Regions from separate parts of the Homo sapiens genome. Here region 2 is linked to region 1. The links come from fine-mapping of genetic effects on gene expression. A gene starts in region 1. The other region holds a variant in brackets. All regions are shown on one strand. Distances are between the middles of the regions.

What was found. PIP is the estimated chance that this variant, and not a neighbour inherited with it, causes the effect. A credible set is the group of variants that fine-mapping cannot tell apart.
Region 2: its variant is the best candidate, but not a certain one, in a credible set for the expression of SEMA5A in fibroblasts (GTEx, PIP 0.67).

Annotation. Positions count from the first base shown.
Region 1 is chr5:9,543,952-9,548,334 of GRCh38, forward strand. It overlaps SEMA5A (semaphorin 5A), which reads right to left and starts at 2,124. Exons shown (of 23, transcript NM_003966.3): 1 at 1,633-2,124. SNHG18 (small nucleolar RNA host gene 18) reads left to right here and starts at 2,249. Exons shown (of 3, transcript NR_045196.2): 1 at 2,249-2,579. RefSeq lists a silencer at 2,058-2,247.
Region 2 is chr5:9,438,308-9,442,690 of GRCh38, forward strand. The region is part of intron 1 of SEMA5A (semaphorin 5A); the gene reads right to left. Among named protein-coding and RNA genes, the nearest start is that of SEMA5A-AS1, 71 kb to the right of the region's middle. The variant T/G (reference allele first, on the strand shown) is at 2,501.

The DNA.
Region 1 (4,383 bases):
AATGGTATTATCTGCTTGAACTGAAGTTGTGTAAAGTGGTCATGATAAACATTACACTCTCTAAAATAATGAAACTGGCATTAATTAGCAACAAATTCAGCAATCCTAATTAGGTATTGAAAAATCTTTCTTATTAAAGCCTGGTTTTGTGTTTCTGTCTCCTTATGAACAGACTACCTCTATAATTAATAACATATCTGCTGATTCCAAACTCAGCCATTATGACAGAGCTCTTCTCGGTAAGCTAGACGTAAAACTTGTCTTTCTTCAAAACAAACCAGAACAATCATTTGTGACTCCTGATGTGTTAACTAAAGTACCCCTAAAAAGCAGAACGGTATTAAACAAAGCTCACGTTATCTTCCCTCAATTTCGATTTCTTTCTGAGTAAATGTAACAGTCACAAGGAAGGCAGATGCCCAGACAAGGAAGACTTTACAGCGATCTTTTTCTCTGGAAGAGACCTTTCTAGTTAGAGCATTTATGTCTGGCCACCACCTTTCCTGTCCCCTCTCCTAGCAAGGCTGACAGCTCTCTATAGCCACCAGATCAGCTCCCCCAACCCCCGGCCCCCAAAATGAAATTATTGCAAGATCTGCCTGGTTCTGCTGTTTGTTGCCTGGGACTCCCGCCCACTCGCCCAGGACCCAGCAACTGCCTGTGGCGCCTCGTCCTCCGAGCGCTCGCTCGCAGCGCCCCCTGCCGGGAATCCCGAGGACGCCGCAGGCGCAGGAAAGTTAAATCCCAACTCCGGCCGCGGCATCCTGGTACAAAGCAAGCAAAGGGCGAGGAGGTGAACGCGCTTCCCGCCAAAGCCAGGGGAACAGGGATGTGACCGCTCCAAGCCAGGCACCGGCCGCCGCGGGGAGCGAGCCGGGGGAATCACTCCTCCACGACCGTTCCCACGCACATCTTGGGAGAAACCATTCCCTCTGGAGCCCGATCTGCCCGAAACCCTGGGGTCTGAAACCCTGAGCCGCGGTGTGCAAAATCCGTGGAGCAGCGGAGGGATGCCTGGTGAAAGGGGCTCGCCTAGCTGCAGCGCACCTGGCTGGTGGTTCCCCAGGCCTCTGCATCCCCCGCCTTAGTGTCTTTCATTAACCAAGGCGCTTGGCGGAGTTGAGCCCAAGTCCCATTGCCTCCCGGTTCCCCTGTAAGGAAAGCAGGAAAACCTGCCCAAGCCGGTGGGGCTGCGAGGTGGCCGCTCCCGAACCGCCAAGTCCCGACCTCCGTGTCCCCTGCCCCCGGCTCGCGGCAGTGCGAGCCTGGAGGCGCGCCGGGGGCGGGCACAGACCAGTGTGCGCACCTTTCCGGGTGTTGGGCAGGGGTCCCGTCTCGCCCACCGCGACACTCCGGCTCCTTACCTCTCCATGCTCAGACCTCGGCACAGGCGGGTACACAAACTTCCAGCCCGTGCACTAGCTCAACTGTGGGCGCCCCCGGACTGACGGTCGTCCTAATCCTGTACGCGCAACCCCCGCCCAGGTGCCTGCTGATGGATCCCACCCGAGATCGGCACCACCCACCAGCCGACCGCTGCAGTCCCCGGGTCCCGGCCAGCGGCGCGGCGCGGCGCGGCGCGGTCAGGGGCTCCTGCCAAGGCCACGCAGGAATCGGGCGGGGGTCGCTCACCAGGTGCGAGGAGCGCTGGTGCCAGTCATCCAGCGCCTGGGGGCCAGAGCGGCTCCGAGGATCCTCTTCAGCACCTGGCTAGGGAAGTGGAGGCAGCAGCTGCAGCCGCCCCCTGCCACTTCCCCAGAGCCGCCCCCTACTCGCTGAGTTCCAGAATGGGGGCACCGGCTTGGGGGCCACGAGCACGGTCCCCGAGCGCGCGGCCAACCGGTGGGTGGGCAGGTTCGCGCCCAGCAGAGACGACCCTCGAGGTGGCAAAGTTGGGTGTCCAAGCCAGCTCCGCGGGGCAGTCCTGGGTGGGAGAAGGGAGCGTCCCGGGATGAGCGACACTGGCCGGGCCGCCCCTGCACGGGGAAGGTGGAGGGCCGGGGCTGCAGCGGGCCAAGGGCCGCGGCTGGCCTGAGGCTGCGAAGCCCACCCGCGGCGGGAAAGCAGCGCTCGGGAGCGGGCTCAGGGAGAGCAGCCGCCACCGGCGCCGCCTTCCCGGCAAGTAGATCGGCGCGGGGCGAGCGGGCGCGGAGAGCGCGGGGCGGAGAGCGCTGGGCGGGGAGCGGGGGACAGCCTGGGCCCACCCCCGCCCCGCCCCGCCCCTGCCCCGCCCCCGCCGCCGCGCCGCCTCCTCCTCCTCCTCCTCCCCGCCGGGGTGAAACTCGAGCGCCCCACCCGCGCCTGACCTCCCCGAGCCCCTCCCCGGGCCCCGCCCCTTCCCGGTACAGGACCCCCACCTTCGCTCCTGGGAGCCCCGCTGCACCCCAGGAGTTCCATTCCAGCCTCCCCAGTGCGAGTGCGGCCGAGCGCTGACTTTTGGGGGCTCCCTCCCCCGTCTCACTGGGTCCCTCTGCGGCTCCCCCGCCCGCTGTCCCGGTTCAGACGTGGCTGCACCCCGGAGGGGGGCGCCGGCCGAGACCTGAGACGTGGCGCTCCCTCTCTGCCGGCCTCGGCTTCAGGTACGTGCGGTTCCCTCGGCTAAATCTGGCCCGGGGGATGGGGGGCAGGGGCCGTCTGGTCCTCCGGAACTCGAACTTTGTGATTTTGTTCTTTCTGTGTGACATCCTCATCCGTTCTGAGGGAGAAACTCCTTAAAGAAGACGAGAGAGTCAGTCGTTGCGGGTTCTTGGAGGAGCACTTTGGGGGTGAGACTCCCGGCTAGTTCGGGTCGATTTCAGCGGGATTAAGTCAAGGAAATGAACAAATCTGACGAATCAGGGAGGCCAGAGAAGGCGTCCCCAGGTAGCCACGCTGAGCGTTAAGAGAGAAGTCCCGTATGGTCAAAGTCATTCGTCCAATTCTGTGTCAATTATTCCTTGTTGCACTTTTGCAGGATCCTTGGGCCTTACTAAGTACTCAGGTGAAAAGTTGATAATTGGGAAGCAAGTAAAGTACCTTTGAAGACGTGTATAATTGGACACTTTGTTGCAGTTCTTCAGTTTCTGGAGGAGGCGGTGGGGGGGGAGAGGGAGGGGGTCAGCCTCGCGAAAAGAGCAAATGGTAAAGTTATAGGAGTATAAGGCATAAAACTTGGGTTGGGAGTCCTGACTGGCCTTGAGTGGCCCTTTCCCACTGGATGGGGGTGCGGGACAGTATCTCTGGGCCCTTTTTACTCAGTCTGCGCCTCAGAGGGAGGCTTGAAGGTCCCCTGCATGAGGAAATGTGTGAATTGCCCCCTCCTGACCGCAGTGAGGTAGGGACCCCCGCAAGGACCCACGTTCACACCAGCGCCCTTCCAGCCAGTGGTGGGGTATGGATGGGCCTCGCTGGTCCTGGGCATGGTCCGGTGCGTCCATAAGGGTTCCATTGAGCTCATCCATAAAACAAAGAAGCTATTGCAGGCTGCAGGGTGTCATAGCTCGCACAGTAGCCATGCAGACCTAAGAGGACAATGGAAATACAAATTGCTATCGATGTGTCTTTATTTTCTAGAACTTTTTTTTAAAATAAAAGAATTAAGTGAAAGCAATTCCGAAGGTTTCTATGAAAGCCCAGCCCATCCCCAAATGCCCAGTCTCTGGCACGGGTGATCTGGCTGTCTTGGGTACTCAGGCCTTACTGGGATTTCCTTTAAGACCTCTGGGAGGAAGTGTCAGTAGCTGGGCAGGCCTTCTTGGCAAGCATTCCTCCCTGGGTTGTGGCGGGGGCTCCCGGCCTGCTGTGTGGCAGCTGCAGGCTCCTGGGGACCTGAAGGAAAAGCTTAACCGTTCTCCCTTCCCTTGCTTGGCACTTAGAGCACTAGTTCCATTCCAGACATTCCGATTATCTTGCCTACGTGGCACAGAGGCCTAGGAGCCTCCCTGGGAGGAAGAGGCAGGCCAAGGTCTTGCCTGGCTGCTTCTAGGGGGAAAGATGTAGGGAGGAAGCTGCCTTATGCTTGGATCTGCAGCCTTTGCCTGGACCTGTGGAGCCTACGTGGCCAGGGTGAGGGAGACAGAAATTAGAACCCAATGTATTCAGCTAATCCTCTTCTTGCCTCTGAACATTGCCGTTAATACTTGAAAAGAAAAAAAAAAAGCAAAAAAACTCTTGGCATATAGAGCTAAGCAGTGGGAAGAAGATAGCTTTCTAAACCATGACCCAATAGGTCTGATAACATAACATTTAACTGGATAAATTACATAATTTTGTATATATGTAGGGGGGAGTTGAATTCAGTTTTGCTGTTTACAGGCTGCACCAATGCATTGTTAAAAGATGTATATTTTAGTGATAATTGTGATTAATTACAAAATAATTGCTAATAAGCAGGTAAATAAACCA
Region 2 (4,383 bases), 110 kb before region 1:
TAGAAATTTGAGTTTGTATTTTTATTTACATACTGATTTATTAGGTGCACAATTATGAGGCTTTATAGGAAAAGGAATGATGCATCGTGAAAAACAAGCCACTTTACCAAAACCAAGTAAACCTGTCCAATCTCGTCATTCAATTTCATATACAAAAATTCTGAAACCTTGATGTTGTCATTGGATGGAAAGATGACCACGAAACGCCAGCCTCCCTAGAAACATGTATGCCAGAGGCTGAAAATATAGGTGACTTTCCATCTATGATCCATATGAGAAATGTGTTCATCACCAGTGAAGGATGCCTGTGACTTCAAATACTGCATTTCAGGGCTCATGCTTTTTTCTGTTCTCTTCATTCATCTGGTTTTTCTCTACACTTCCCAGGTGGCAGCTTCTGGCTGCTATAAATGTGAAACACCCTGACATTCTTCCTCGCCACCCTGAAGAAGGGAAAATGGGAGAAAGAACTTCCCAGAACATTCTGGCTGTCCCTCTAGGCAGTGATTCCCACACGGTCAGCTTCAGTCATGATCCGAGGCCATCTGCCTGCAGAAAATGAACTGAACGACAGCAGCTGGAAATTTATAAAATGTTATACCTGCTGAAGTGCCATTTTGGAAGCCCTAGGGTTCAGAGGCCAGGGAACAGGTCAAGGTGGCACTGCCTCTCTATGAGTCTCCCTTCCTCCAGGACGGGCCTTTGGTATGTTCATGGGAAGCAAGGGGGTGACCCAGGGCAACACACTGGGACATGCCTGCCTGAGACGCCCCAGCAGCCCAGGCACCCTCATATCGTGCAGCACGGCCAATCCTCCAGTCCCAGCAGAGTCCTCAAAAGTCCGTGACATCATCCTTTGGACAGGAGAAGGTGCAGATGCAAATCCTTGAAGCCAAAAGAGGAGCCAGGGAAGCACACTCAGTCTCAGAAATATTCCTCAGAGTGGCCAATTTCTTTTACACAACATCACTAATATCACCTTTGGGCGTGGCAACAAAATATGTTAGTTGAAACTCCTTTATTAAATGGCATGTTTGAATACACAAGCATCCTCTCTCCAGTCCTAAAATCTATTTTACAACAATTATTACTAAAATGTCCTTGTAGTTGTTTAGATCTGAGTTGAAATGTAAGTAATAAAGTTTGACAGATCCTCTGGTTACCGCCATGAATAGCTGGCAATTTCTGTAAGTTCCCATGTCTCAGAACTACATTAAAAACAGGGCTAATAGGTCTCCTGCCTCCCCCAGTGAGGTCACAAATGAGCTGATGTGAACCCTCAGCTGGACAGCAAAACCACACCTGCAGAATATGGGTCAGTCTCTTAAATGAAAGAGACTGGGGCCAAAAAGATCATTGCAAGAATTCACAATCAGTAACACAACCAGAGAGCAAATACTGCAGGAAGAAGACATCCCTGCCGAATCCAGCATGGACAGCCCACAGCCTGGACCGCCAGACAGTCCTGGTGCAACCAACAGACTCCAAAACCCAGCCCCTTCCTTGTGGAAAAGCAATACCCACAGGACAGAGCTCTCTTGGCTTGGGGGAAAACACAGCTTCCTACAGAGTTTGATGTCTAAACAGGAAATCAGTCTCAGCAGCAGGATTCAAGGGTGTCCACCCGAAAGGGTTGTTACTGTGCCTGTGTTTACATAAATAGTGAAAAAGATATTTTAACAGCCTGGGGGCTTGTCAGCCAAGTGAGCCATGTTGGGACTTTCTGCTCCTGAGGGTCAGCCCTTGCCTGGGGAAGACAGGGTGCTCACCAACACACCCATGTGTGCCTGGGAACGTGCACTCAGGAACAGAAATGATAGTGACAAAGCAGAGGCCTTGAGTTGGAGCCAAGCTAGAGGAACAGACAATGATTCTTGCAGGTCCAGAAGCAGAGCCCCCGTGTCCTCTCCCAGCAAGGTCATAAATTAGCCAATGCATTAATCATAAATCACTGACATATTTTCTAGAAAACTGAGAAGAAAGCTGAAAGGCAAAGAAACTACAAAGCCCCAGAGGCTCACTCCAGACTGGAAGTTGGAAAATTTTTAAGCGACAGTTAACTACCCATTTAATAAGAAACTGCTTATTTTTTATAAACATATAAATTTCTCTATTTGACTCAATTCCATATTATCCTTATTCTTTTCTCTTTTAGCTTAGCTTTAACCTTGGTGCCAACAACCTCTGAAATCCTCTGAGTCATAATTTTCAGAGTTCTGCCTCTTAAAAAATGCCACCATGAACATATATGTGCAGAACTATCTTGACGACACTTTTGATTTACAAACAGTAACTCTTTCCCAGAAGTTTTGCCCTGTGGCCACCTACACTCTTCAAATTGTCTCTAGATGGAACTACATGAAGAAGATTGAATACCAATTATAACTTACTAAGTGCTCATCAGCACATGACTTTCTGCTAAAATATGCAACCTTCTCCCTGCCCAACTTACTCAGAATGAGGTAAGATGTAGACTTAAGCATTATTTTGGAGACCAAAG[T/G]TGAGCTGAGTGGTAGCCTTTATCCTGCAGATACATGGCAGAAATTAACATGCCAGGCCAGTCTTATGAGCTGAATTTAGAAACCGTACAACAGTAAGATTACACTGGAAATAAAAATGGACAAGACCACCTGGCATCAGAAAGTTTAGTGGAGTGATGAAAAGAAACCGTAAAAGATACAGGTTCAAGAAACCTAAGAACTGCTGGGCCAGCATTTCCCAAAGGCAAGACTTAGACCAGTGCCATGGCATTTAATTGACAGGCCTCTCATCATCAGTCCCTCCGTTAATCACCATGCACAGCACAGCCCCATGGCCACACATGGTGGATGCTTAGAAGACAAAACAAGAACCTATTACACTCTCAGGAGCTGTCTATATGATTTTTCTGCTATGTAGTTCAGTATATACTATGAATTGGAGGAAAGAGAAGTTACTTATGGGCAGAAGAGTCAAGGAAAAGATTTCTGAAAATGGGAAATGTGATGTGGGCTCTAAGGGATGAGGAGGAGATAAGGAGGATATTAAAAGACACAGTGAAGTATGTTTTAGTGGGTGCATTGCAGGTGAAACAAACAGTAGATGAGGGAGGAACAGCTGAAAGTCATCAGGTATAAGAGAAGAGCCATTTACGCCAGCACCATGGTGAGTTAAAGCATGAGTTCCTGGTACCATCCCTGGAGTTGGGTGGAAACCCCACCACGGAGCCCACCAAGATAAGAGTTTGCAGGAGTGCAAACTGAATGAGATAGGTGAAAAAAAGCAATTCCACAAAGGTAAAAATCTGGACTGCAATGCCATAAGAATCACAGACAGAAATCTGGCCTCATGCTCAAGTCCCTGGAGGAAGACAAGGAAGTAAACAGGAGGGTGGATTCCAGGTGGCAGGCCAAGGAGCAGGGAGGGTGGCATCAGGAGTGTGTGGAGGCAGCCAGCATCGGCTAGCAGCAGCATGTGCCACGATGACTACCTGCAAGATCACTCACATGCAAGAGCATGGAGAGCTCAAAAGAGGCACTCCAGACAGCTAACAGATGGGAAAAGTAGATGACACACAGATTGTAGGGAATGTTAACATGAGAAAGAGATGAGACTTCATCCAAAGGAAGGCAGAGTCACTGAAGGTTCAGTGGGATGTCAGGATGAGCAAACTTTGGGAGGGTGAATATGGCAGCTCTGCAGAGGATGCACAAGACAAGAAGGGGAGAAGCTGGGGTAAAAAGCCGCCACCAGAGAACTCCAGGTATGAGGAGAATTGCAGTGAAGGATGAACATGGCCCTTGCCAAGCAAAGGACTTGCCTTTGCCAAGTTCCTGGGAAGTCACCTCTAAGACCTTAGAATGTCCTGCCTGATGAGAGACTTTGTTTTGGGGGGGCTTTAGGCCACACAGATAGTCTAGGCTAACCATGTGGTTAATGGCTGAGGGCTTGGGCCTCTCTGGATTAGTCTGGCCATGTCTATGTGGTCAATTCTCAATAAAAACTCAGGACACCAAGGCTCAGGTGAAGTCGCCTGGTTGGCAACACCCTATGCATGTTGTCATACATCCTTGTGGGGGAAGAAGCACTGTCCACGTGTCTCCACTGGAAAGAGACCATCAGAAGCTCGTGACTAGCCTCTCCTGGACTCCAGCTATGCACCTTTTCCACAGCTGGAGTGTAAAGGGTACTACTGTACCCTTTGACTGAGATCAACCATAATCACTAATACAACAGGTTTTACACATTCTTAGAGTTCTTCATGTAAATCATTGATCCTGAGGGTGCCCATGAGCCACATGGCAAACAGGGTCAGGGGGCCCCACATGACTAAGTGTGCAGCTTCAGCCCTAAACATCAACATTTAAAACCCAGGAGCAACAAATGGCCTATCGCATTGGAATT